4 linked regions of the Homo sapiens genome follow. The protein of the gene in region 1 interacts with the protein of each later gene in a biochemical or structural test. Each region holds a gene or a part of one and is shown in the gene's direction. Other genes may lie near its edges. The genes, in order: PLAU, SERPINB2, SERPINA5 and KAT8.

Evidence for each region.
Region 2: the proteins of PLAU (region 1) and SERPINB2 form a complex in vitro, tested with the Homo sapiens proteins (one study listed by BioGRID).
Region 3: the proteins of PLAU (region 1) and SERPINA5 form a complex in vitro, tested with the Homo sapiens proteins (2 studies listed by BioGRID).
Region 4: of the proteins of PLAU (region 1) and KAT8, one has a biochemical effect on the other in vitro, tested with the Homo sapiens proteins (one study listed by BioGRID).

What each region holds. Positions count from the first base shown.
Region 1 is NC_000010.11:73,906,823-73,914,131, forward strand, and holds the start of PLAU (urokinase-type plasminogen activator isoform 1 preproprotein), read left to right. Parts: upstream 1-4,309; 5' UTR 4,310-4,396; exon of another isoform or gene 4,397-4,702; 5' UTR 4,703-4,733; coding exon 4,734-4,790; exon of another isoform or gene 4,791-5,069; coding exon of another isoform or gene 5,070-5,103; exon of another isoform or gene 5,104-5,218; coding exon 5,219-5,246; exon of another isoform or gene 5,247-5,273; intron 5,274-5,377; exon of another isoform or gene 5,378-5,392; coding exon 5,393-5,500; intron 5,501-6,101; coding exon 6,102-6,276; intron 6,277-6,467; coding exon 6,468-6,559; intron 6,560-6,716; coding exon 6,717-6,936; intron 6,937-7,157; coding exon 7,158-7,306; intron 7,307-7,309. UniProt on the Homo sapiens protein: Specifically cleaves the zymogen plasminogen to form the active enzyme plasmin.
Region 2 is NC_000018.10:63,897,699-63,904,414, forward strand, and holds the end of SERPINB2 (plasminogen activator inhibitor 2), read left to right. Parts: intron 1-28; coding exon 29-146; intron 147-4,041; coding exon 4,042-4,184; intron 4,185-4,705; coding exon 4,706-4,870; intron 4,871-5,202; coding exon 5,203-5,607; 3' UTR 5,608-6,190; downstream 6,191-6,716. UniProt on the Homo sapiens protein: Inhibits urokinase-type plasminogen activator. The monocyte derived PAI-2 is distinct from the endothelial cell-derived PAI-1.
Region 3 is NC_000014.9:94,584,426-94,591,425, forward strand, and holds part of SERPINA5 (plasma serine protease inhibitor preproprotein), read left to right. Parts: intron 1-2,920; 5' UTR 2,921-2,937; coding exon 2,938-3,556; intron 3,557-5,615; coding exon 5,616-5,886; intron 5,887-6,323; coding exon 6,324-6,471; intron 6,472-7,000. UniProt on the Homo sapiens protein: Heparin-dependent serine protease inhibitor acting in body fluids and secretions. Inactivates serine proteases by binding irreversibly to their serine activation site. Involved in the regulation of intravascular and extravascular proteolytic activities.
Region 4 is NC_000016.10:31,113,306-31,120,688, forward strand, and holds the start of KAT8 (histone acetyltransferase KAT8), read left to right. Parts: upstream 1-4,358; 5' UTR 4,359-4,376; coding exon 4,377-4,587; intron 4,588-4,753; exon of another isoform or gene 4,754-5,551; intron 5,552-6,880; coding exon 6,881-6,955; intron 6,956-7,033; coding exon 7,034-7,209; intron 7,210-7,383.

The sequences.
Region 1 (7,309 bases):
TCCATGAGTAAGGAAGCAAGAATGCTGCCTCCCTCCACCCCTTCCACAGCCTGCTGGGGGCCTGCAGCTCCAGCAATCCCCCTATCATGTTACATGCCCAGAAGCGGCTTTCAGTGCCTGCCGTTGCCAGCTGGCTTCACCCTTCACACTAGACACTCAGGAAGAAGGGGTCCTTAGACTCAAGGAAGCTATGTGACCAGCATTCCGTACCTCCTTCCCAGAACTGTTGAAGAGTCCGTCTGCCCCATGTGTAGGAGGGAAAGAGGCGCTTCAGGCCACACAGGGACACAGACAAGAGGGAGAGGGAGTAAGCATAGGCAATGTGGGAGTGAACAGCACATGCAGCTGTGGGTCCAGCTGCCTGATTGCTGGGAACTGCTGGCCAAGGATACAGCATCCCCATTGGCCTGGAATCCTGGAATGGACTCCAGCCTGACTTGGTCTTCTGAGTCAATCCAGCCACAGTCAAAAAGGGGAGGCAGGCACTCGATGTAGGAATTACAGTTTACACAGTTCCTCTTCCTATCTCTAGCATCCAGAACTGCGCCCAGCACACAGTAGGTCCATGATAAATATGGAATGAATGAATACTTTTACATGCAAGCATGATCTCAGCCAATCTGCAGAGTGAGGCACAGGCTGGACAGGTGGATCACCTGAGGTCAGGGGTTCAAGACCAGCCTGGACAACATGGTGAAACCCCATCTCTACTAAAAATATAAAATTAGACCGGCATGGTGGCAGACACCTGTAATCCCAGCTACTTGGGAGGCTGAGGCAGGAGAATTGCTTGAACCCAGAAGGTGGAGGGTGCAGAGAGCCAAGATTGTACCATTGCACTCCAGCCTGGGTGACAAGAGCGAGACTCCACGTCAAAAAAAAAAAAAAAAAAAAAAAGAGTTAAGCAACTTGCCTAAGATCATTCAACTTTGATGTAGCAGACTGAAGGCTAGGCACTGTGGTCTTTCTATAGTGCCATGCTGAGCATTCTTCATATACAACACAGAATTGCATCCTATGACTCCATGGGAACTTCCTTTTGGGTCAGAAAATAGTCCTTAGGGGCTGAGTTTCCTGGACTTAGTCTCAGGGCCAGGTTTGGATACCCTGCCCCTCCCTGCGCATCTGGCATCTGCCTTCCCTTTTATGAGAATCTCCTGGAAAGGGCTTCTCCAGCAGTCTGTGTTGCCACATCTGACTCAGGAGCTCTGTACCCTTGAGACACAGAGGCAGGGGTTGGTGGCTTCACCCTAGGAGTCAGGAAAAGAATGAAATCATACACATTCAGTTCCTTATTCTCTTACCCTCAACAGAAATTTCAGACAGCCTAGACCACAGAGACAGTTCTTGGAATTCAGGCAAACAACTAATTTGTATTACAGCGGGTGCAACTTAAGAGCTCAGAGTCCATAGTCCGAGCAGTCTTTCTGGAAGGAGGTCTCCAAAGTCAGGAGGAGGGCTCCCCTGAGCTGGATCATCTTAGCTCACTGGCCCCTCCCTTCACAGCGTTCTGTCTTTTATGGAGACAGTGAGGTATAGCGCATAGGAACAAGGATCAGAAGACGCTGGGTTTTAGTGCTGGCTTTGCTGCTCATCAACTGTGTATCTTCTCTCCACTTCATTTTCCATATCTGCAAAATGGGAACAACAATACCAGTCTATATCATAAGGCAGTTATGAGTTTAAAGAGAAATGGTTTACATTAATGTGCCTTGAAGCACAAGACAGAAATACAATATAAAAAATATGGCTGGGGCCGGGCACGGTGGCTCACGCCTGTAATCCCAGCACTTTGGGAGGCCGAGGTGGGCGGATCACAAGGTCAGGAGATCGAGACCATCCTGGCTAACACGGTGAAACCCCATCTCTACTAAAAATACAAAAAATTAGCCGGGTGTGGTGGCAGGCGCCTGTAGTCCCAGCTAGTCGGTAGGCTGAGGCAGGAGAATGGCGTGAACCCGGGAGGCGGAGCTTGCAGTGAGCCGAGATTGTGCCACTGCACTCCAGCCTGGGTGACAGACCGAGACTCCGTCTCAAAAAAAAAAAAAAAAAAATATGGCTGGGCGTGGTGGCTCATGCCTGTAATCCCAGCACTTTGGAAGGATGAGGTGGGAGGACCCCTTGAACCCAGAAGCCCAGCAAAACCTTGTCTTTAAAAAAAAAAAAGAACTGTGCACAAAGATTTCAGAGAGTGCTAAAGATTAGCGCATGGATAAGGAAGTTCTGTGAAGAGTTGAAGTGCTAGGTGAAGAGGTGGCACGGGGGAGGAGGGGGCGGAAGGGGAGAAAGGGTGTCACGCTTCATAACGGTCTCCAAACCTCTTTGTCCAGGAGGAAATGAAGTCATCTGCTCTCAGCAATCAGCATGACAGCCTCCAGCCAAGTAATCTGGAGTCATGAGAGCTGCTAGGGGAGCAACATGAATCATGACGGTCCCTGGGAATTTCCTGATAACTAACCTGGGAGTTTCGGGGTAAGTCCTCAGGCTGCAGCATCTCTGTTTATGTTCTGGTCACGTTTATTTACAATTAATGGGTTCTCAAATCCAAACAAAACTGACCACAGTCTTCTAGAGGAAGTAGCAAGGTTGGCTCTGAAGCCTATAGCATCGCTGACTCAGTCTGTCCCCTGGAAGGCTGGCAGCTCAGCAAGCACAGAAGTCTCTCCAGAAGACAGTGGGTCACCTGCCTCCCAAAAGCTGAAAGGCTAACTTGTACTTTCCCCAGCAGGCAGCTGGCACCCTGAGCCCTCGGCTGGGGCAGAGCAAAGGAGCCTTCCTCCTTCCTACCTTCCTGGCACTCTCCCTGCCTTCCTTCTGTCACTCTCAGGTGGACCCAGACCCAAGGTCCAGATTTGCAAGGCAGGAAAATGCTGCAGGCCTAGGCTGGGAAAGGGCCCAAAGCCGCTAGTGGATTGCTGGGACTCAGCCTCCTCCTTCCCACTAAGAGAGCGAGTCCTACTGGGTTCAAAATGACCCCAAGCCCTGGTTCCTGACACTAGGGGAAAGAGATGGGGGTGACAGAATCACAGAATCCCTGCTATGTTCCTCCAAGTGTGCCCAGAGATGCGTGTGTGTGTGTGTGTGTATACACAAATGTCTGCTTATCCTCAGGCAGGAAGGGTGGATGCAGTCATTTACACATGGTCTGTTTTTCTGGAGGACAATTTTATTTGATAAACAATTGTTTCTATCTGAATAGAATAAACAAGGCTCTATGATGAAGTAAAACACTAAATACACATGCATTAAAAAATGCATAATTATCTTTTTGGAATGGGCTATACAGAGATGTGCTTTTTAAAATGTTAAGAGTGTAAAAGGACAAACAGTGAAAAATAAATCTTCCTCTTATTTTGTCCTCCAGTCTCCCAATTCCTCTACTCAGAGGTGAGAACAGAACTTCCACACCCTCCAGAACCTCCACAGTTAGAACTGTCTACATGTTTCCATTGTCTTTACTTTTATTCTTGCCTGCACAAATAAATGAATTGCTCATTATGGAAACTTCCCAAAAGACCCGTTAACACTTCAATAGGAAGCACCAACAGTTTATGCCCTAGGACTTTGTTCCCACAATCCTGTAACATCATATCACGACACCTAACCCAATCCTTATCAAGCCCTGTCAAAAACGGACTTTAAACCAAGCTGCAAATTTTCAGTAATCTGGCCTTGCCTTTCCCCCTCTGATAGCACCATCAAACAAACCCCCTTACTGCCGAAAGCAATAAGCCCGGCTTTGTTCCATCCACTGGTTGTGTTGGTGATATCTGGGGACTGCCACTGAACAGACGCACAGAGGGAGCCCCTACAGGCAGGGGTTTTTCTGTCTGTGCTTCTGGGAGAGTATGTCTCGTACATTTGTCGCGTTGATGAAGACTTCACAGCTCCATCAGCTGCGGGCAAGGGGGTCTGAGGCAGTCTTAGGCAAGTTGGGGCCCAGCGGGGAGAAGTTGCAGAAGAACTGATTAGAGGACCCCAGGAGGCTTCAGAGCTGGGCGAGGTAGAGAGTCTCCTGTGCGCCTTCTCTCCTCTCTGCAATTCGGGGACTCCTTGCACTGGGGCAGGCCCCCGGCCAGGTGCATGGGAGGAAGCACGGAGAATTTACAAGCCTCTCGATTCCTCAGTCCAGACGCTGTTGGGTCCCCTCCGCTGGAGATCGCGCTTCCCCCAAATCTTTGTGAGCGTTGCGGAAGCACGCGGGGTCCGGGTCGCTGAGCGCTGCAAGACAGGGGAGGGAGCCGGGCGGGAGAGGGAGGGGCGGCGCCGGGGCGGGCCCTGATATAGAGCAGGCGCCGCGGGTCGCAGCACAGTGCGGAGACCGCAGCCCCGGAGCCCGGGCCAGGGTCCACCTGTCCCCGCAGCGCCGGCTCGCGCCCTCCTGCCGCAGCCACCGGTGAGTGCCGCGGTCCTGAGATCCCCGGGCCGGATGCGCGGCGGCCCCAGCTCCCGAGCGTCTGCCTCCCCCGCCCTGGGCTGCCCGGGCTCCCTGGGCTCCCCGGCGGCTGCACGGAGTCAAGGCGCCCCGTCCCGGGCGTCCCCCGCGGGTGCCGATCCAGGCTGCCCGGAGTCCGGAGCCCAGAGAGGAGAGAGACAGCTGGGGAGCCTGGTCACCGCGGGCATCTCCCCTGCGCTGCAGTCGCCCGCCTGGCCTGCCTTCCCGTTCCTCCGCCTCTTGCCCTGACTTCTCCTTCCTTTGCAGAGCCGCCGTCTAGCGCCCCGACCTCGCCACCATGAGAGCCCTGCTGGCGCGCCTGCTTCTCTGCGTCCTGGTCGTGAGCGACTCCAAAGTGAGTGCGCTCTTGCTTTGACTGATGCTGCCCAAGGACCTCTGATCAGCACCAGGGGAGAGGAGGGGCTGCTCAGGGAGCTGGGGTCCTCCGGATTCCATCCACAGCAGGGCCAGACTCTCCCCAGGAAATGGGACAGGGTGGCAGCGGAGGCTTGAGAACCACGGGGGTTGGCACTGGCTGGCAAGGGAGGAAGAGGCCGCCGGGACTGCCCCAGCCTGCGGGCATCTGGTAGATGAAGCTTGCTTGGGTCAATCCATTTCTCCTGGCTGGAAACCCATGGTCTTCCATTTGAGAACTAGATACGAACAGGGTGAGGCGAGAGGGAGAGGGAAGAGTGGGTTTTGGGATTGGGGCCAGTTTACCCTCACCCTGGAGTCCCTGGAGCATGGGACCTTTGATGAAGCCTCCTCCCGAATCTCTTCCAGGGCAGCAATGAACTTCATCAAGTTCCATGTGAGTATCCACCCCTACAACAGTTGGCTGCACAGACAAGTTGGGAAGGCTTCAGGGGACATCCCCTCCCTGCCCTCTGCTGCAGGGCTGCGCCACCCCTTACCACTTCCACTCCCCCTCGCTTACCCCACCTTTGTTCTCTCCAGCGAACTGTGACTGTCTAAATGGAGGAACATGTGTGTCCAACAAGTACTTCTCCAACATTCACTGGTGCAACTGCCCAAAGAAATTCGGAGGGCAGCACTGTGAAATAGGTATGGGGATCTCCACTGCAACTGGGAGAGAAATTTGGGGACAGGGAGGGATGGGTGGGAGGCAAGAGCAGGCAGGAGTTAGGAGCTGGAGGTAGGGTGGGTGACATCTTCATCCCTATGTGACAAGCATAAACACACACACACGCTCACGAAACAGTGGCCACACAAATGTGAGGTGGGGTTGGAAGGAGACCCTGTCCAGTCTTCTGGCAGGTCTGAAACGACATCTTTAAAATGTCCGTTGGCAGCCGGGCATGGTGGCTCACGCTTGTAATCCCAGCATTTTGAGAGGTCAAGGTGAGTGGATCATTTGAGGTCAGGAGTTCAAGACCAGCCTGGACAACATGGTGTAACCCTGCCTCTACTAAAAATGCAAAAATCAGCCTGGCATGGTAGTGGATGCCTGTAGTCCCAGCTACTTGGGAGGCTGAGGCAGGAGAATTGCTTGAACCTGGGAGGCAGAGATCTCAGTGAGCTGAGATCACACCACTGCACTCCAACTGGGCGACAGAGCAAGACTCCATCTCAAAAAAAAAAAATAAAAGTTAGTTGGAATGTTCTTCTCTTTCTCATATTCTCTCATCCTCCTGTCCCCTTGTAGATAAGTCAAAAACCTGCTATGAGGGGAATGGTCACTTTTACCGAGGAAAGGCCAGCACTGACACCATGGGCCGGCCCTGCCTGCCCTGGAACTCTGCCACTGTCCTTCAGCAAACGTACCATGCCCACAGATCTGATGCTCTTCAGCTGGGCCTGGGGAAACATAATTACTGCAGGTGAGGTGGGGGCAACAAGGACCAAAAGCCCTCCCTACAGCTTCCCAGAAACCTTGTTACCATCCCCTTCTCCCAGAGGGCTGGCCATAGCACAAGAGAAGTGCGGCCTCTGGTTGAGTCTTCCCTGAGGGGAGGAGGCAGGGAAGGCCCTCTGGGTTGGAATGACATCCCCTATCTTTCTGTGTTGCCAGGAACCCAGACAACCGGAGGCGACCCTGGTGCTATGTGCAGGTGGGCCTAAAGCTGCTTGTCCAAGAGTGCATGGTGCATGACTGCGCAGATGGTGAGCATCACTGACCTGCTGATGACAGTGGGGTGGAAGGGGACAAACTTACATGTCCCCTTATTCCATCACAGGAGGACTGAGGAGGTGGGGGGTGCCCGAGAGGGATGCTTTCTCCTACCTGCCTCCCTAAGACATCCCTCTGTTTGTCCTCCAGGAAAAAAGCCCTCCTCTCCTCCAGAAGAATTAAAATTTCAGTGTGGCCAAAAGACTCTGAGGCCCCGCTTTAAGATTATTGGGGGAGAATTCACCACCATCGAGAACCAGCCCTGGTTTGCGGCCATCTACAGGAGGCACCGGGGGGGCTCTGTCACCTACGTGTGTGGAGGCAGCCTCATCAGCCCTTGCTGGGTGATCAGCGCCACACACTGCTTCATGTACGGCCCTGGGTTTCTCCTCTTCGACTCTTCTGCCCCACCCCAAGCACATCCCTTTCTCCTTCCCAGCAAAGTGTTCCGCCTCATTTCTCCCTCATCTGCCCCTGTCCATGCAGCCCATGGCCTTGGGGACAAGTCGTGCTTTGAGGCCTCTAGGGAGGGAAGGAAGAAGTGGCAGATTTCATGGGACTAAGCTGTTTGATGGGTATCTTCTCCCACAGTGATTACCCAAAGAAGGAGGACTACATCGTCTACCTGGGTCGCTCAAGGCTTAACTCCAACACGCAAGGGGAGATGAAGTTTGAGGTGGAAAACCTCATCCTACACAAGGACTACAGCGCTGACACGCTTGCTCACCACAACGACATTGGTG
Region 2 (6,716 bases), on another chromosome or scaffold:
TAGCCTTTGTCATTTTCTTGCTTTAAAGGAATATATTCGACTCTGTCAGAAATATTACTCCTCAGAACCCCAGGCAGTAGACTTCCTAGAATGTGCAGAAGAAGCTAGAAAAAAGATTAATTCCTGGGTCAAGACTCAAACCAAAGGTAAATCCAAGAAAATATTTTATTTACTTCTTTCCAGTTAGAAAACTCTGATCTATCTTTTTCCATCCATGAACTTAGTTAGCCCTCACCCCTTTACAATTTGTCCAACTGCAGTTACTTTGGTGGATGTGAATTTATTCCTGATTAGCTCAGTGGTGTTTTAACTGAGAAGAAATAATTGAGGCCTACTAATAGAAGACATATGTTTAGTACTTAAATATTTGATTTTGGATATTGCTTGAGGATAGAATATGAAAGGAGGCAGAAGCTTTCAAAATAGGAAATATCAGCATTGAAATAATTGTGAGTCTATGCCCACTGTGGACAAAAAGAAAACAAGGCTTGACCCTGAGCTTAGTAAATGGTGTGAGCTATAAAGAATACAGGCAGTGGAGGAGGGAAGAATCATAAAATTATTTTCACTCTTTCTTCTCTTTCACCATTCAAAGCCAATCCATTGTCAAGTTTTTTTGGTCTCTGCTTCATCCCTCCTTGATTATCTAAGTCACGTCTACCATTTTAACTCATGCTTTTAATTGTTTCACAGGCTCCTGCCTCCCTCTGTATATTTTACAATGAATAAATTATTTAATTGAATCATTTATTCATTGTAATTTAGTTTATTAAGTCATTTATTCATTGAATTCATTCATTCATTAAGTTCTATTAAGTTCATTCACTTAGTCAACAAATATTTATCCACCACACACCATATTCCAGAAACTATATGTGGAGATAAAGATAAAAATGGTAAATCCTGCCACCATAGAGCCTATAGAGGAGGGATTCAGTCATGTTGGCAATTGCTATAGAGTAGTAGTCAGTGCTTTCATTGAGAAGTACAGGTGCTATGTGGGAGTACACAGGAAAGGCATCTGACTGGATTTAAAAATGATTAAATTGTAATTGGGAAGACAGGCTGGAGCTGGCCAGGTGGAGGGTGCATGCCTGGGGGGAGATTTCCAGACAGAGTGCACAGAATATGCAAAGGTCCAGAGGTAACCCTAAGGAGAAGAATAGAGTCTGGTCTGACTGCAGTGTGGAGGGCCAAGGGAAGGAGGTGAAATTAAAGAGGTGATGCAGTACACTTATTATGCTATTCCCACACTAAAAACTGTCAGTGACCTCCTACTGTCCTCAGGAGAAGGTCTCATTCTTTACCTTGACTTCTGAGTTCTCAGTAATCCAGTTGACTGTGCTTGGCTACCACTGGCCCTTGGAGCTCCTTAAACACTCATTGCTGCCTCTAGACTTTGTTTCTGAGGATGCCTCAACTACAGGATTTAAGTTGCAGTTTAAATTGCAGCCAAAGTCTTACTCTTTCCTGGAAGTGACTCCCAATTACTTCCTGATCTTTTCTTCTTCTCATCTCCTCATCTGCTTTTTCAGCTTCACAAGTCACATTAGTGTTAGCCATATATGGCCTTAAACAATTATGGAACTGATTTTTGTTAGTTTGTTTTGCTTTTCCTCTCAGGCTCTAATTATTTTTGGGTAGGTCCAGTATGTCACACTTATCCTATGCCCCCACAAAAATTTGCACAGTTTTTTGCTGACAGTGAAAATCCTTCATTCTTCTGAATTTCCAGGTAGAGTTGTAGGCCTTAAGTAAACAATTGCTGAATAATAACATATAAATGTATTTCTAAGAAACAGAGATGATTATGAATTCAGAATTGTGTAAGTATTTCATTCATTTATGATCTGTTAGGATTGAAAATGTCCTAAGAGAGCTCCTATCCATCTTACCAATTTGTGGTTGGAGCATCCTGTTCCCAGGGGATTAGCCGGCTCCCCTAAGATCCCACTGGTAGCGGTAAAGCCAGGGTTGCTTCTTCTTCTGATCCTTAGTCTAACTCCAGAATTCCTCAATCGGATGTTTAAAAATTTTATAACTTATTTTTTTAAGGATTTTCATTTAACTCTTATGTTTAAGACATTGTTTCAAGAAATAGTTTGGTGTCTTGCTTTATTAATTACCACAATGGAAAATGCACATAAACTAAGTGCTATGGGATTTCAAAAAATATATATTTATTTGTTTATCTGAAAATAATTGATTTCCTTTTAGTTCTTCATTTTCATTGTGGATTTGTGAAATACTGTTCTAAAATATTGACAGACCACTGACACAAAGGAAGCAGAGAAAGATGATTTAAATCAAAAGTTCAAGTAAAAATGGAGAGCAAAATTAAAGAGACACATGGAAGTTTTGCCTTCTTTAAAGAATGGCATGAATTGTTTTTCTCTTTAGACATTGTGCTAAATGGCTGTAAGTCAATCAGTTATTTTGCCAAAATGCCAAGCAGCTATTTTGGCAGATTGTTTTACCAGCTTTTGTAAGAATTGGAGAGAATTGTCTGTTTCATCATGCTATGATCAAATACTAGTTTTATCATATACATCACAACATTACTATACCCCAATACTAACCAAAAATTTTAATAGCTTGGGAAATATATTGAATGTATATATTAAATGAATACATTGAAGATGAAACTGATGCAAGGCAGGCAAGCTCCAAAGTGGGGCTTAGCCTTCAAGGGTTCTTGGCTTCACCCAGGAAAGTATTCAAGGGTGAGCTGGAGGTAGGGTAGAAGAAAACAGCTTTATTGAAGTGGCAGTATTACAGCTCCATGATTCCTCCTGCAGAGAAGGGCTACCCCAGGCACTGTGCTGAGAGGCACAGCTCAGGGCAGTTTGGGGGTCATATTTATACCTACTTTTAATTACATGTAGATTAAGGGGCAGTTTACGCAGAAATTTCTAGGGAACGGGGAATAACTTTTGGGTCATCAGGTCATTGCCACAGAAAGAGGTGGTAACTCCAAGGTGTTGCCATCACAATGGTAAACTGACATGGTACACTGCTTCCATCCTGTCCCTGGTCCCCATTTTAGCTAGCCCTCAATTTGGCCTGGTGTCTAAAACCTGCCTCCAGAGTCAGGTCCCACCTCCTACTTCAAAACCACATTGACCTATTAATTTGTTAAGAGTCTTGTATTTGTCAGTAGTTTTGACTGTGGAGGCAGAATTTTTACAAGCTTACCAGCATTGTAACGTTGGGAAGACTGCTAACCTGGTGGTGTCCTTTTGCATAAAATGACACTAATAAAACCCACCTAATAGAGTATCAAAATAATATATTTTGATGCTTGGAATACTGCAGAGCGAGTACTAACTATAAACAAACTGCTTCTTAAACCAATTTCATTTTTTTAAATGACCACACTCATTTGTCATTGTTTCTGTCAATCTTCTCGGGCTTACTCCTTCACTCCCTTCTCTGTATGATCATAGTACTCAATATATTATTTAGCTCAATTACAGAAGTTATCACACAGGGTTTCACAACTGATTTTGAATGTCTCCCCCAGTGTTCTAGGCTCATCCAGGATAATTCTTCCTTTCTCATCTCTTGTATCTGCACTACTCTTAATTTAGGTCTAGTATATTTTTTACAAAACGTTTTTGAATAAATGAGTAAGTCAGATCCTCAGACTATCTAGACCAGATCTAGCAGTACATGATATATTTTGGAAAGGCACTATTATATTCCCTAAGAACCTCTCTTTCACTTCCCTCTGATTTGAATAACTTTCAACTGCCAAGCTTTGAGAAAAGAATATAAAAGGGAGTGAAAATCTCCATTCCAAACTTGATAGGCGGTCTAAATTTTAAATGCATTATTTCTTCATTTTTTCTTGGATTTTGCAAGCTTTTGGGAAATTTGTTTCAATTTTAATTTTGCTTTAAATAAACCTAAAAAACTTTAGCTTGAAGATTAACAACTCTGCAATTTGAAGAATTTAGTTTGATGGCTACTCAGAAGATTCAGTAAGTAATTTCACAGTTCTTGATTATGAAACCTAAATATATGTTATGTTTTCTGTAGGCAAAATCCCAAACTTGTTACCTGAAGGTTCTGTAGATGGGGATACCAGGATGGTCCTGGTGAATGCTGTCTACTTCAAAGGAAAGTGGAAAACTCCATTTGAGAAGAAACTAAATGGGCTTTATCCTTTCCGTGTAAACTCGGTATGAGACAACAAAATACATCTTCCTAGCATATATTTTAGGGCTTTTGACAAGATATAGACAGAAAAATTAGAGACCGCTCATTATAGACTTGCTAGTTAGAAGTTATGCATGTTGGACAGTTGATTGACTCTTTAGAAACAGTATAGGTAAAGGGGAAGACTGTGGCTTTTTAATTATACATGCCCAGACTCCAACGTTGGCTCTACCACTTATTTCAAAGGGCTGTAAATATTGAGACATGGCACGGTTCCTGGCCCATAGTAAGAACTAAACAAGTGTTTTAGAATTATGGTTGTCATTACCATTGTTGTCCATCTTACTAAATAATGGGTATAAAGTTGAACAAGCTAATAACATCAGAGTACCCACTGTAAGGATGTACAAATAATTTATTTTGTTGATTTAAAAAAATCACATTTATCCTACACTAAAGTAGAACCAATCCTCCTTTATGTCTAATTGTAAATCTCTTGATATCTTATAATCGACTTCCATATTTTACCTTTTAATAATATTAGGCTCAGCGCACACCTGTACAGATGATGTACTTGCGTGAAAAGCTAAACATTGGATACATAGAAGACCTAAAGGCTCAGATTCTAGAACTCCCATATGCTGGAGATGTTAGCATGTTCTTGTTGCTTCCAGATGAAATTGCCGATGTGTCCACTGGCTTGGAGCTGGTAAGACATTCAGATATTTAAGTTTCTGGGGCTATACCTACCTTTCGTGAGATGAGATGAATATATACTCCTTACAAATGGTGTGGTAATTTCTCATGGAAATATATGAAACAGTTGATAGTAAATATGGCATGCCTCTACATTTCATTCAAAGCCTTAACTATGTCATACGTGTTACCTTCTTGTAAAAATCTGACCAATCTGTTAACTTTCTATATCACCCACAATATAGTAAAGTCACTGATTTTTAATATTAGACTTAAAGTTGTTTTCCTTCTTTCTAATACTTGCTGTATTTTCTTTTGTTTGTTTTGTTTTGTTTTGCTTTGCAGCTGGAAAGTGAAATAACCTATGACAAACTCAACAAGTGGACCAGCAAAGACAAAATGGCTGAAGATGAAGTTGAGGTATACATACCCCAGTTCAAATTAGAAGAGCATTATGAACTCAGATCCATTCTGAGAAGCATGGGCATGGAGGACGCCTTCAACAAGGGACGGGCCAATTTCTCAGGGATGTCGGAGAGGAATGACCTGTTTCTTTCTGAAGTGTTCCACCAAGCCATGGTGGATGTGAATGAGGAGGGCACTGAAGCAGCCGCTGGCACAGGAGGTGTTATGACAGGGAGAACTGGACATGGAGGCCCACAGTTTGTGGCAGATCATCCTTTTCTTTTTCTTATTATGCATAAGATAACCAACTGCATTTTATTTTTCGGCAGATTTTCCTCACCCTAAAACTAAGCGTGCTGCTTCTGCAAAAGATTTTTGTAGATGAGCTGTGTGCCTCAGAATTGCTATTTCAAATTGCCAAAAATTTAGAGATGTTTTCTACATATTTCTGCTCTTCTGAACAACTTCTGCTACCCACTAAATAAAAACACAGAAATAATTAGACAATTGTCTATTATAACATGACAACCCTATTAATCATTTGGTCTTCTAAAATGGGATCATGCCCATTTAGATTTTCCTTACTATCAGTTTATTTTTATAACATTAACTTTTACTTTGTTATTTATTATTTTATATAATGGTGAGTTTTTAAATTATTGCTCACTGCCTATTTAATGTAGCTAATAAAGTTATAGAAGCAGATGATCTGTTAATTTCCTATCTAATAAATGCCTTTAATTGTTCTCATAATGAAGAATAAGTAGGTATCCCTCCATGCCCTTCTGTAATAAATATCTGGAAAAAACATTAAACAATAGGCAAATATATGTTATGTGCATTTCTAGAAATACATAACACATATATATGTCTGTATCTTATATTCAATTGCAAGTATATAATAAATAAACCTGCTTCCAAACAACAATACATTTGTTGTCATTTCATTAGGTCTGCAGATCATAGACCTTGACTCCTAGGAGTTGAGCATTATGACTCACTTGTGAGAACTCAGAAAAAATAGACAGGATGAAGGAGCCAAGGACATAACAACCTTCATTCAAAAAGACCCAATGTTGAGGGTCAGTGGGATGGGGTTGTATGAAAAATGGGTTAGAGCTGCTTTCTCACAGCAGCAAAGACATAGCAATTCAGAATAGTCTAGGTTAGAGTCCTTTGGGGAAACCACTGTCTAAACATTAAGGACACCAGGATTAATGACCAAGTCCAGTGGTCCAGACACAGAAGAAGGCCTCAGTCATTGAGCTCAGAGTTGCAAGCAGTGAAGATGGGAGATGGGTTGGGTGCAAGAGCAGGAGGGGAAACATAAGATGGCTCTTTCTAAGTGTGTTTGTTTCTAATAGCAGTAATGCTTTTGAATGAGTCAGAGGCAGAGGAGAACATAATTGAAGACCTGAGAAATAAGGCAAATTGTAGGTTGGGGGCCTGAACAA
Region 3 (7,000 bases), on another chromosome or scaffold:
GGGTCTCAAACATGTAGCCCAGGAGAGCCTAAGTGAACCTGGGGCCCTCTCCAAACAGATCCTGGGGGAGACTCAGTGCACACCCGGAGAAGCAGCTCCTCCCCATCGGATCTCTAGTGCTTGGCAGGGGGCGGGGTCTTGAGGGGGTGTCCACAACACATGGCAGACTGCAGATGAAGAAACTGAGGCCCAGAGGGGGTGAGGCTTGCCCAGGGTGACCTAGTAGCTGAATAGATGGGAGAATGGAGGCCAGGGCCTCACTGAGACTCTCTGGTCAGCTGCCCCTGGGCTGTATCCAATAAGGAAACTCCCCTGCTTCTGAAGCTGTTCTCGAAATTATCAGCTCAGTGTGACCCTGTGGGGGGTTGAGCCACATTGTTTCTTTAGAAGCATCTCCATACATGGCTGGTTCCAACCCTTGGCAGGAGGGACCATATTGTGCTGTAAAATAGACTCATTTAGAGAAGCCGGAGATTAAAGCACCCACCTATGTCCTTCAAAGCTCTCCAGGCAAGTGCCATGGTGGGAACAGGTAGGGAGTGTCAGTGGGGGGAAGCCCAGACTCTGCTCACTCATTATCTGCAGATTAGGGCTATTGTTGGTGGCTACTAAGTCAGGGATTTCAAAATCAGGAAGATGCAGCCAGGAAAAGAGGAGGCAGGACTCTGCAGAGGAGGCAGGACTCTGCAGAGTCAGAGTGATAACCGAGTCTGAGTCCAAGCTTTGCCAGTGTTAGCAAGCGACTCCATCTCTCTGAACCTCGGATTACCCATCTGTAAAATAGAGCTAGCAGCAAGATGTACCTTTTTGGGTGGTGCAGGGCTGAAGGAGTTGGCACAGTGCCTGAAAGAGGGTGCGGGCAATGCGCCCAACTGCTGTGGCTGCTGGGTTTGGTGCCAGGTTCGATTCTGCAGGCAGAAACTTCTACATGAGGCTCCTTCTCGGAAGGAGCTCAGGACACAATTTGGAGGCTGGGCTGGCAAGGGTGACCTGCTGGAGCTATTCAACTTCACTTAAAGACAGGCCTGCAGTCCAAGCCTGCCCAATTCCTGAGACCATTCTCTCTCCACTGCTGAGCCCCACGGCCACTCTGCAAGGGATTTCCCACCCACCTGTTTGGGGCCCTTTGGAGTTTGGTTTTAATTGGGTCACGGGATGCTGTGACAGGCTGCCCCTGCCTGGTGGGGATCTGGGGTCACTGATGACATTGTGCCCATGGAGAGAGCCCAGCAGAAAGGGATTCCCTCCAAGGCGACACACAGGGCAAAGCTCACATCAGAAGCCAGGCAGGCCCTCTGCACCTGGTAATTAGCCAGCCTGGGTGCTGTCAGGCTCACACGTGTGTGTGTGTGTGTGTGTGTGTGTGTGTGTGTGTGTGTAAAGCATGTACCCTATGGTACAGTTGAGAATATGGAGGCCTCAGATGGGGCTTTTGCCAGAAACTGCCATGCCTACTGCTCACACTTCCATAGCACGTGCCCCCAAGCACCCCATGGTGTAGGTGCTGTTATTATCACTATCTTACAGTTATGGAGCAGTGGCTCAAGGTGTAACTGACTTGCCCAAAATCACACTACAAGGACACAGCAGGGCTGAGATTTGAACCCAGGCAGTGGCTTCAGAGCCTGAGCTGTTTCCTACTGCAGAGGGAGGAGGCAAGACTTCTACCCGTAGCCAGATGGGGAGGCATGGGCACAGGAACGGCTCTTGGGTGAAGTGGAGGGAGGAAGAGGAGGACTGAAGGCCAAGGCCACGTCAGGAGTGATGGGAGACCCCACAAAGGCCTCCCTGAGAAGAGCTAGAGACAAAGATGAGTGCCTCCTCATCTGGAAGATGAAAAGATGTCTTTGCCTGCATGGGCTGCTGTCACAAAGTCCCAGGGGCTAGGGGGCTTCAACAACAGAAATTTCTTTCTTTACAACTCTGGAAGCTGGAAGTCTGAGATTAAGGCACCAGCAGGATTTGTTCCTTCCAAGGCCCCTCTCCTTGGCTCACAGGTGGCTGCCTTCTCCCTGTCTTCACCTGGTCTTCCCTCTGTGCATGTCTCTATCCTGATCTCCTCTTTTTAATTTTTGTGTAAGGACGTAGTCATATTGGGTTGGGGCCCACTCTAGTGACCTCATTCTAACTCAGTCCCCTCTTTAAAAGCCCTATCTCCAGATATAGTCACATTCTGGGGTATTGAAGGTAAGGACTTCAGCATATGCATTTTGGGGGCACAATTCAGCCAGAACAGGAGGACGGTGGGGATGTCCACATGAAGAGGTTCAGGCAGAATTCCTTTAGGAGGGGAAGATGTCTCTCTGTGGGACAAGGGTGGCATGGAGCAGCCCCTGGGGGAAGGAGAAGGGGACAGTTTGCATACTGGTATTCTGCCTACCCCAGGGTGGACACTCACTCAGCGTTTGCTGAATGAACAGGGCAAGGCCAGCAGTGCTGATGGTCCCAGGCATGTAGCTGGTCTGAGTTCATAGAAGGACCACAGCGCCCTGCCATGTGCCAAACCAGGACACCAGAGTGAAGGCCAGAAGCTCACATGGAAGCAGCTTAGTTCCCTGGTAACCTCGAGATGCTGATGAGACAGAGCAGAGCAGAGGGAACCCTCTCCCTCCATATCCCATCCTCCAAAATGTGTCCCTTGATGTGGATGGGTAGACAGGATTCCTGCCCTGGCAGCCAGACCCCTGCCTTGGGTCTGCACCTCCTCTCCCTCCTTCCTCTCCCCGTCATCCCTAAATCTTGTCCTCGAGCCACTGCCACCCTGTGTAAACCCTCATGCCCAGTCTTGCGGGTGCCATCCCTTCTCTTTGAAGCTGAATGGACCAAACATACCCATTGAGTGTTGGGTGGGGACATCTCTGGAAAGTCAGCACCTGGACCAGCTCCACCCCTCTCTGAGGACACCTTCTTTCCCTTTCAGAACAAAGAACAGCCACCATGCAGCTCTTCCTCCTCTTGTGCCTGGTGCTTCTCAGCCCTCAGGGGGCCTCCCTTCACCGCCACCACCCCCGGGAGATGAAGAAGAGAGTCGAGGACCTCCATGTAGGTGCCACGGTGGCCCCCAGCAGCAGAAGGGACTTTACCTTTGACCTCTACAGGGCCTTGGCTTCCGCTGCCCCCAGCCAGAGCATCTTCTTCTCCCCTGTGAGCATCTCCATGAGCCTGGCCATGCTCTCCCTGGGGGCTGGGTCCAGCACAAAGATGCAGATCCTGGAGGGCCTGGGCCTCAACCTCCAGAAAAGCTCAGAGAAGGAGCTGCACAGAGGCTTTCAGCAGCTCCTTCAGGAACTCAACCAGCCCAGAGATGGCTTCCAGCTGAGCCTCGGCAATGCCCTTTTCACCGACCTGGTGGTAGACCTGCAGGACACCTTCGTAAGTGCCATGAAGACGCTGTACCTGGCAGACACTTTCCCTACCAACTTTAGGGACTCTGCAGGGGCCATGAAGCAGATCAATGATTATGTGGCAAAGCAAACGAAGGGCAAGATTGTGGACTTGCTTAAGAACCTCGATAGCAATGCGGTCGTGATCATGGTGAATTACATCTTCTTTAAAGGTAAGGCCCTTGGGCCCAAACCTGCACTTTCTTTGGCTTTTCTGCTGCTTTTATCTAAAGAATACCCAATTCCCTCACATACATAAAAGACGGGGAGTACGTTAAGTTCTTTTGGGTGCCTGTTGAGAAAAATTAAGTAAACAAGCAGCCAGAGAAGGTAAGATGAATGCCTTCTTGCTGTGGATGGGATTAGTGAGGCTGAGATGCTGTTTCCTCCACGGAGGAAGAGCTGGTTGCTGTCTTCGGGCCCCTGGGGACATCTGAAGCCCCAGCTTTCTACAGGCTCTGAAGTATGAACCCATTGTGGCCACCATGGCAAAGACACCAACACCTTAGCCACTCAGGGCAGGACACAGACCCCAGAAGGGCTTAAAGGGCATTTCCCAGTCCCCCGTATCCCTCAGATCTTGGCCCCTCTGCCCTCATAGAGGCCAAGACTCCCTCAGACAAATGCTTGTTCCTCTGAAATGCCTCCTCCTGACTCCTCAGCAAGAGCTGACCTCTGCTTATCTCCCCGACACTCCTTGTAAGCATTCCTGCTCGCCTCTGCAGCTCCTGCCAGTTGCTGACCCTGGGGAAAGCAAGAGTGGATAGAGAGGAGAAGAGAGGAGAGGAGAGGGTGGGAAGGGTTGCGAAGGAAGGTAAATTGTTAACACCTCCCCTTCCTATGGTCACAGATCATGAGTATCTTTGGCCATTTGGGTGGCTATAACAAAATACCATAAACTGGGTGGCTTAGCAACAACAAACATATATTTCTCATAGTTCTGGAGGCTGAGAAGTCCAGGATCAAGGCACTGGCAGATGCAGTGCCCATTCCTTGGTTCATAGAGAGTGCCTTCTTAGTATATCCTTGCTGGAAGGAGGAAGGCAGCTCTCTGTGGTCTCTTTTGTAAGGACACCGATCCTGTTCATGACAGCTCCACCCCCATGACCTAATCAACTCCCAAAGGCCCCCTGTCCTAATACCACCACCTTGGGGGTTAGGTTTCAACATATGAACAATGTGGGGACACAAACATTGAGACCACAGCAGTGAGTGTCGAACTTGGACTCTGAGATTTCCTATCCCCTGGTGCAGGGCAGTCCCCATTACACCAGATTGCTGAGGGCAGCTGGGAAATAAGCTAAGGACGGTATTGACTGGGGTCTTCCTTCGATAACGATTAAGAAGTTGGAAACAGGCCAGGCATGGTGGCTCACGCCTATAATCCCAACATTTTAGGAGGCCGAGATGGGCAGATCACCTGAGGTCAGGAGTTCGAGATCAGCCTGGCCAACATAGTGAAACCCCGTCTCTACTAAAAAATACAGAAATTAGCCAGGCATGGTGGTGGGCGCCTGTAATTCCAGCTACTTGGGAGGCTGAGGCAGGAGAATCACTTGAACCTGGGAGGTGGGGGCTGTAGTGAGCCAAAATTGCGCCACTGCACTCCAGCATGGGTCACAGAGCGAGACTCCATCTCAAAAAGAAGAAAAAAAGAAAAAAAAGAAAAAAAGAAATAAAATAAAATAAAAAGAAGTTGGAAACAATCACTTGTAGCGTTTTGTTCAGAAGTTCCCATAGGAAGGTCAGAGAAGGGTCATTGAAGACTTCCCAATGGGAAAAACCATTCATTTCCAGGATCCATACTAACTTCTTTCTAAAATTTAAATCAAAATATTGGAATGAAAGTGCAAACAGAGAAGTTCACCCAGATATCAGGTAGCATTCACAGCCAGCCACATTTTTCACCCTCTTCACTTGGAGATTTGGTCTTGAGTAAAACGTTAGAGAATCAGAGAACATCAGGGGTCCAGGGCCTCTGAAGATGTGAAAACCAACCTCCTTGTTTTGCAAATGTGGAAGGAAAAGTCCCACGAAAAGTCCAAGAATGTGCCCAATGTTATAAAGAGACTTGCCTTCATATTCAAGAGGTTCAACAGTCACTGCTCTGGGGCTGCCATAAAGATGGTCTCCGCTGGCTATCTTTACTGTCTTCACTCCTTTTATTTGCAGCTGAGAATTTCTAATTCTGACACAAAATTCTTTTTCATTTTTCCCTTTTTTCATCTTTAGCTAAGTGGGAGACAAGCTTCAACCACAAAGGCACCCAAGAGCAAGACTTCTACGTGACCTCGGAGACTGTGGTGCGGGTACCCATGATGAGCCGCGAGGATCAGTATCACTACCTCCTGGACCGGAACCTCTCCTGCAGGGTGGTGGGGGTCCCCTACCAAGGCAATGCCACGGCTTTGTTCATTCTCCCCAGTGAGGGAAAGATGCAGCAGGTGGAGAATGGACTGAGTGAGAAAACGCTGAGGAAGTGGCTTAAGATGTTCAAAAAGAGGTACTTTCAGACTACCCCAGGGCCAGCCTAAACCCACACAGCCCCAGGGAGACACACACGCCCTACCAGGGCCACACAGCACTGGTGGGAAGGACTCACCCAGCCAAGGAGCTGCCTCCAGGCCCAGAGGCATCCTGTGACATCCAAGTCCTGGGGGCCTAGCCCAGTTGGAGGGACAAGAGCTGGAAACTGGGTTCCTTAGGGTGGTGCCAGAGTGGGCAGAGACCTCTGGGCAGCCCACGTCCAAGTCCAGAGCAAGGGGAGGCTCATCCTAGAAAAGAGGCCAGAGGAGCCATAACCACCATTGTTCCTTGGGTTAAGGAGTCCTTTTTTAAAACCATCAAAACTAAGAATCCAGTGCATTATGAATCCAAGGGGTGAGGCTCAGTGTGCCAATGCCCCAGAACAGTCTAAGAAAGCTCCTTTTCCCTTTCCAGGCAGCTCGAGCTTTACCTTCCCAAATTCTCCATTGAGGGCTCCTATCAGCTGGAGAAAGTCCTCCCCAGTCTGGGGATCAGTAACGTCTTCACCTCCCATGCTGATCTGTCCGGCATCAGCAACCACTCAAATATCCAGGTGTCTGAGGTGGGTTCAGAAGCTCCTATGCATCTGCTTCCCAAGGTCTATTCTGTTCTATTCTTTCTATTCTACTCTACCCCATTTCATTCCATTCCATTCCACTCAACTCCACTCCACTCCACTCCACTCCAGTTCACTCTATTCAATTCCACTCCACTCCACTCCAGTTCACTTTATTCAATTCCACTCCACTCCACTCCAGTTCACTCTATTCAGTTCCACTCCACTCCACTCCACTCCAGTTCACTCTATTCCATTCCACTCCATTCCACTCCTCCACTCCTCTCATCCACTCCACTCTACTCCTCCACTCCACATCTCCACTCCACTCCTCCACTCCACTCCTCCACTCCACTCATCCACTCCACTCCTCCACTCCACTCCTCCACTCCACTCCTCCACTCCACTCCACTCATCCACTCCACTCTTCCATTCCACTCCATTCCACTCCTCCACTCCACTCTTCCACTCCACTCCATTCCACTCCTCCACTCCACTCCACTCTATTCTATTCTATTCCATTCCATTCTACTCT
Region 4 (7,383 bases), on another chromosome or scaffold:
AGGGGAAGTTGTATGTGGAAGCCAAATGGCAGGGGCTAGGAAACCACAGTGACTTGCTAGACTGAAAAATCCCGCCAGCTGCAAGGCAGGGTGCTGAGGCTGGAGAGGCAGGCAGCAGTCAGAGGCCAGGGCCCTGAAACATGGGATTTATCTTGAGCCATAGGGATCCATGGGTGAGTTTTTATTTATTTAGAAATGGGGTCTTGCTCTGTTGCCCAGGCTGGAATATGGTGGCTGCAGAGTTCACTGCAGCCTTGAACTCCTGGGATCAAGAGATTCTCCCACCTCAGCCTTCTGAGTAGCTTGGACCATCATGCCAGGCTAAATTTTAAAATTTTTTGTAGAAACAGGGTTTCTACAAAGCCCTATGTTGCCCCGGGCTGGACTTGAACTTCTGGGCTCAAATGATCCTTCCACCCCAGCCTCCCAAAGTGGTGGGGTTACAGGCATGAGCCACTGCAGCTGGCCCATGAGTGGGTTTTGAGCTGGGAAGGGATGTTTCTGGTTGGAGTCCCTGAGAGGATTCATGTCCACGTGATTTCTTAAGAAAGTGCTCCCAGAACAGAGTAGGGGAAGTAGGAAGGGGAAGGGGAGGAAGCCAAGCAAGGATGTGACCTCAGGCAAAAGCCCAGAACCAGTCAATTATGCCTCAGGGTTGAAGGTAAGAGAGCTAAACCTCAGAGTTACTGATTAATTTCTCCACTTGGCAGTCACTGGTTAAAGTCAGTTGGGAAAGTGAACAGCTCTATTAACCTAAGGATGGTTTTTTAAGAAGAGCCTCAGGTGCTGGTGTGGGTCTTTGAAAGCACATCAAAGGTAATCTGGGCACACAGAAACAGCAAGAACTCCCAGAGGATCTGGGTGGAGCACCTACATTGTTTTTTTGTTTGTTTTGTTTCGTTTTGTTTTTTTAAACGGAGTCTCAATCTGTTGCTCAGGCTGGAGTGCAGTGGCTGGATCTTCGCTCACTGCAACCTCCGCCCCACCCCCCCCCAACCCCAGGTTCAAGCGATTCTCCTGCCTCAGCCTCCCGAGTAGCTGGGATTACAGGCGCGTGCCACCACACCCAGCTAATTTTTCTATTTTTAGTAGAGATGGGGTTTCACCACGTTGGCCAGGCTGGTCTCGAACTCCCAACCTCGTGATCCATCCACCTCAGCCTCCCAAAGTGCCAGGATTACAGGCATGAGCCACCATGCCTGTCGGATGTTTCTTGATTTGTAACCTCTGAGAGACCCATCCGCAGGCCCTGAGCATTCCACTCCTCTCAGAATTGTTTCCAAGCCCAATAACCACATTATAAATCAAACAAGATTCAGAGAATAGCCAAAGGGAATGTTTACTGAGTACCTACCCGGTCTGGCACTTTGCAATACACTTGTATATTGCTAAGACGGATAGTTCAACCGTTACATAGTTATATGATTGATAGTTATACATGCTTAACTGCTGGGGATTGGTTCCAGGACCGCCTGTGAATACCGAAATCTGCAGGCGCTCAAGTCCTACAGTTGGCCCTGCCAAACAGCAGATATGAAGTCAGCTCTTCAGATCTGTGGGTTCTGCATCCTTACAATATTTCCTTTCCTTTCCTTTTCTTTTCCTCCCTTCCTCCCTCTTTTTTCTTTTTCTTTTTTGAGATGGAGTCTTGTTGTGTCGGCCAGGTTGGAGTGCAGTGGCGCGATCTCGGCTCACTGCAACCTCCACCTCCTGGGTTCAAGCAGTTCTCCTGCCTCAGCCTCCCAAGTAGCTGGGATTACAGGCACACGCCACCACCCCTGACTGTTTTGTATTTTCAGTAGAGACGGGGTTTCACAATGTGGGCCAAGCTGGTTTTGAACTCCTGACCTCAAGTAATCCACCTGCTTCGGCCTCCCAAAGTGCTGGGATTACAGGTGTGAGCCACCGCGCCCAGTCTTTTTTTTTTTTTTTTTGAGGCAGAGTTTCACTCTTGTTGCCCAGGCTGGAGTGCAATGGCACAATCTCAGCTCACCACAACCTCTGCCTCCCAGGTTCAAGCGGTTCTCCTGCCTCAGCCTCCCGAGTAGCTGGGATTACAGGCATGCGGCCACCACGCCTGGCTAATTTTGTATTTTTAGTAGAGATGGGGTTTCTCCATGTTGGTCAGGCTGGTCTCGAACTCCCGACCTCAGGTGATCTGCCTGCCTCGGCCTCCCAAAGTGGTGGGATTACAGGAGTGAGCCACTGCGCCCAGCCTCCTTTTCTTTCCCCCCTTTTTTTTTGAGACAGGGTCTCTGTCACCCAAGCTGGAGTGCAGTGGAGGGATTATAGCTCACTCAGCCTCGACCTCCTGGGTTTAAGCGATCCCTCTGCCTCAGCCTCCTGAGTAGGTGGGACTACAGGTGCGGGCCCCGAGGCCCAGCTAATTTTTTTTTTCCCCCAAATTTTTAGTAGAAAGGAGGTCTCTATGCTGCCCAGGCTGGTCTTGAACTCCTGGCCTGAAGCGATCCTCCTGCTTGGATTCCTGAAGTGCGAGATTACAGGTGTGAGCCACCATACCTCAACACTGTATTTTCAACCCGCTCTTCGTTCAATCTCCAAAGGTGGGACATGCGGATATGGAGGGCCGATTGTGTATGGTTGGACCATACACATATAAATGGCTTTAACCTTTACTGACTCTCACAGAACCCTCAGTGCAGTGGCGTGATCTCAGCTCACTGCAAGCTCCACCTCCCGGGTTCACACCATTCTCCTGCCTCAGCCTCCCGAGTAGCTGGGACTACAGGGGCCCGCCACCACGCCCGGCTAATTGTTTTGTATTTTTTTTTAGTAGAGACGGAGTTTCATCGTGTTAGCCAGAATAGTCTCGATCTTCTGACCTCGTGATCCACCCGCCTAGGCCTCCCAAAGTGCTGGGATTACAGGCGTGAACCACCGCACCCGGCCTTTTTATTTTTTTTGAGATGGAGTCTGGCTCTTGGTCCCCAGGCTGGAGTGCAATGGCGGGATCTCGGCTCACTGCAACCTCCGCCTCCCGGGTTCAAGCGATTCTCCTGCCTCAGCCTCCCGAGTAGCTGGGACTACAGGTGCGTGCCACCACGCCCGGCTAAATTTTGTATTTTTAGTAGAGACGGAGTTTCACGGTGTTAGCCAGGATGGTCTCGATCTCCGCCCGCCTCGGCCTCTCAAAGTGCTGAGATTACAGGCGTGAGCCACCACGCCCCGCCCAACTCGTCCTTTCTTTAGACTTTATCCTGTGAGGGTGAATTATGGCCTGTCCCTGGACACACCCGTTCTGCTTTCCCCGCACCAACTGTATCCCAAATAGGGGAAGTAGTCTCTTCAACCTTCAAAAATGGGGCACTGGCTGGGCACGGTGGCTCACGCCTGTAACCCTAGCACTTTGGGAGGCCGAGGCGGGCGGATCACCTGAGGTCAGGAGTTCGAGACCAGCCTGGCCAACAGGGTGAAGCCCTCTCTCTACTAAAAATACAAAAAATAGCCGGGCGTGGTGGCGCGCGATTGTAATCCCAGCTATTCAGGAGGCTGAGGCAGGAGAATCGCTTGAACCCGGGAGGCGGAGGCTGCAGTGAGCCGAGATCGCGTCACTGCACTCCAGCCTGGGCGACAGAGCGAGACTCCATCTCAAAAAAAAAAAAGGGGGGGGGGCGGGGAGCGACATTAGGCCAGCGCGAGTGTGCGGCTCCAGGCCACCAGGGCGGCCGCTCTGGCTCTGCCCTGTTAAAGTGGGGGCAGCGCCCGCTGAAAATTGGCACATCTTGGCTTCCGCAGGTACCAGGGCCTTTAAAAAGGTTCAGCTGGCCGGGCACGGTGGCTCACGCCTATAATCCCAGCACTTTGGGAGGTTGAGGCTGGCAGATCACGAGGTCAAGAGATCAAGACTATCCTGGACAACATGGTGAAACCCCGTCTCTACTAAAAATACAAAAATTAGATGGGCGTGGTGGCGCGCGCCTGCAGTCCCAGCTACCCGGGAGGCTGAGGCAGAGGAATCGCTTGAACCCGGAGGCGGAGGTTGCAGTGAGCCGAGATCGCGCCTCTGCACTCCAGCCTGGGCGACAGAGCATGATTCCGTCTCAAAATAAATAAATAAATAAATAAATAAATAAATTAAAAAAAGGTTGAGTTGAGTCATCGCATGAGGTAAGTCTGTCTCCTCTCCTCACCCATAGGCTGCAGCCACAGGTCCGCACGGAAAACCAGGAGCTCCAAGACTGCCGCACACTCAACATCCAACTCGCGGGGCCGCGGGGACGGCCACAGAAGCCAATCGGCTCCTGCTACATCACAGACCCCGCCCTCAAACCTTGAGGAGCCCGCCCCACGCACTGCTGACCCGGAGCCAAAAGAACTGCGTGGCGTCCGATTCTGGCGTCACTTCCCTTCCCGCGATGGCGGCACAGGGAGCTGCTGCGGCGGTTGCGGCGGGGACTTCAGGGGTCGCGGGGGAGGGCGAGCCCGGGCCCGGGGAGAATGCGGCCGCTGAGGGGACCGCCCCATCCCCGGGCCGCGTCTCTCCGCCGACCCCGGCGCGCGGCGAGCCGGAAGTCACGGTGGAGATCGGAGAAACGTACCTGTGCCGGCGACCGGATAGCACCTGGCGTGAGGGCGGGGCCCAGGGCTGGGGGCGGGGCGGAGCTCAGGGCCAGGGGGTGGGGCGGGGCCTGAGGACAGGCTGTCAGTGAGGCCAAGATCCGGGGGCTGGGAGTGGAGAGGAGGAGGGGCGGGGCTTGAGGAAAGAACGCCGCGTTCCGGGCGCTGAGAAACCAGCCGGGTTGTGGGAGGCTGTTGACCTTGAATTATGCCGAGCGACGCCTACAAACCCACCGCTCAGGCCTTCACCAGGATTGTTCCCATTCCACTTCCTTGCCCAGTCTTAGGCTTCATTCCTTTTTCTTGCTAACGCTGCTTCCTCACCCTCTCTTGTCTCTGCGTCTTCTTTTTCCATTTGTCCCTGGCAGCCATCCGCAGAGAGAAGACCTTCCAGAAACAACAGGCTTCCCTTTCCTAAAGTTCTGCTGCCTTCTCTCATTTTCAAAATTAACCCCAAACTCCTTAGGGTGGCATTCATTTTTGTGACCTCTCCAGTTTCTAGCCAACACTAGGAAAGGGCATTGCCAGGCCAGAACACACTGTGCCCTCTGAAGACCACACGCCCTTTACCACCTGTGCCCTTTGCTTGGAATGCTTTTTCTTCCCTTTCTCCTTGTTTGCCTGCCTAGCTCCTACTCATCCTCTTAGCTTCATATCCTTTGTGATGTCATCCTTGATTCCCCTTCAGGCAAAGTGAGTGGTTCCCTTCTCTATGTTCCTGCAACATTTTTTTCCTACCTCAGTCATAGTTTTTGTAACATTATGTTGTAATTTTCTCTCTCTGTCTTCCTCCATCATACTGGGAACTTCTGGAGGGCAGCACTTCTTGTGATTCATCACTGTGTCCTCTGTACCCGGCAACAACACAGCATAGGGCCAGACACGTAGTGGTTGCCTTACTCATTTATTGAATGCTCTGCTAATTGTCAGGTGCGCTGCTAAAAATTTTGGAGGCATTAATTCACCTTCTAAGGTTGGTACTATTATCCCTTTTGTCTTTTTTTTTTTTTTTTTTTTTGAGACAGGATCTCGCTCTGTCACCCAGGTGGGATTGCCGTGGCACGATGACAGCTCACTGAAGCCTAGACCTTCTAGGCTCAAGTGATCCTCCCACCTCACCCTCTCAGAGTGTTGGGATTACTGGCATGAGCCACTGTGCCCAGCTGTTATCCCTTTTCACAGATGAAGAGACTGAGGCTCAGAAAGATGGAATAACTTGCTCAGTTACACATAGCTAGGAAGTAGGGAGCTGGAATTTTGTGTATTTTTTTTTGTTTGTTTGTTTGAGATGGAATCGCTCTCTGTTGCCAGGCTGGAGTGCAGTGGCGCCATCTTGGCTCACTGCGATCTCTGCCTCCCGGATTCAAGCGATTCTCCTGCCTCAACCTCCTGAGTAGCTGGGACTACAGTTGTGCGCCACCACACCCAGCTAATTTTTGTATTTTTAGTAGAGACGAAGTTTCACCATGTTGGCCAGGATGGTTTTGACCTCTTAACCTCGTGATTCACCCACCTCGGCCTCCCAAAGTGCTGGGATTACAGGCGTGAGCCACGATGCCCAGCCCTGGAATTATACATTAATGTAGGTTATCTTAATCCAGAGCCAGCACTCATGATCCCTGAACAAATGAACAACTGCGGGTATGTGGTAAAATGAGCATTGAATTTAGAGTCAGACTTAAATTCAGTTAAGTATTAGCTCTTACCACTTTTCAAATCTGTGACCCTAGGTAAGCCTCAGTTTTGTTCTGTTTTTTGGGGTTCTTTTTTTTGAGACAGAGTCTTGCTCTTGTCACCCAGGCCACAGTGCAGTGGTACAATCTCGGCTCACTGCAACCTCTGCCTCCCGGGTTCAAGCAATTCTCCTGCCTCAGCCTTGCCTCCCAGGTTCAAGCAATTTTCCTGCCTCAGCCTCCCGAGTAGTTGGGATTACAGGTGTGTGCCACCATGCCTGGCTTTTTTTTTTTTCGTCTTTTTGGTACAGATGGGGTTTTGCCATGTTGACCAGGCTGGTCTCAAACTCCTGGCCTCAAGTGATCTGCCCATCTCGGCCTCCAGAAGTACTGGGATTACAGGTGTGAGCCACACACCCAGCCAGTTATTTTCTCATTCGTAAAATGAGAATAACAGCCTCAACCTGATCCACCTCACAGTTGTGGCAGTGATTGAGTAGAATGGCAGAGGTGGACCAGTGAGGTTAGCTGATGTGTGGCCCTGAACTCTGGAAACTGCTTCTCAGTGTGCAGGATTCCTTTTGTTCCAGCCTTACCTTCCTGATGACCCTAGCCTTTTTCCATCACAGATTCTGCTGAAGTGATCCAGTCTCGAGTGAACGACCAGGAGGGCCGAGAGGAATTCTATGTACACTACGTGGGCTGTGAGTGGCTTGGCACATCTGGGCGTGGGTGCAGGGAGTTGGCTGCCCTGGCAGCACTCTTATGGCCCATACTTACAGTTAACCGGCGGCTGGACGAGTGGGTAGACAAGAACCGGCTGGCGCTGACCAAGACAGTGAAGGATGCTGTACAGAAGAACTCAGAGAAGTACCTGAGCGAGCTCGCAGAGCAGCCTGAGCGCAAGATCACTCGCAACCAAAAGCGCAAGCATGATGAGATCAACCATGTGCAGAAGGTCCGGATCCCTTCCCATCCACGGGCCCAGGAGGCCCAGCTTCTCTGCCAGTTCCCTTGGGTCTCTCGGGCCCCAGTGCCAAAACCATAGCAAATCCCATTTCTTAAGCTCCTGTAGTGTGTCAGGGACTTTACCTACTTCCTCTTACTTACTTTTCATAGGTAAGAAAACAGA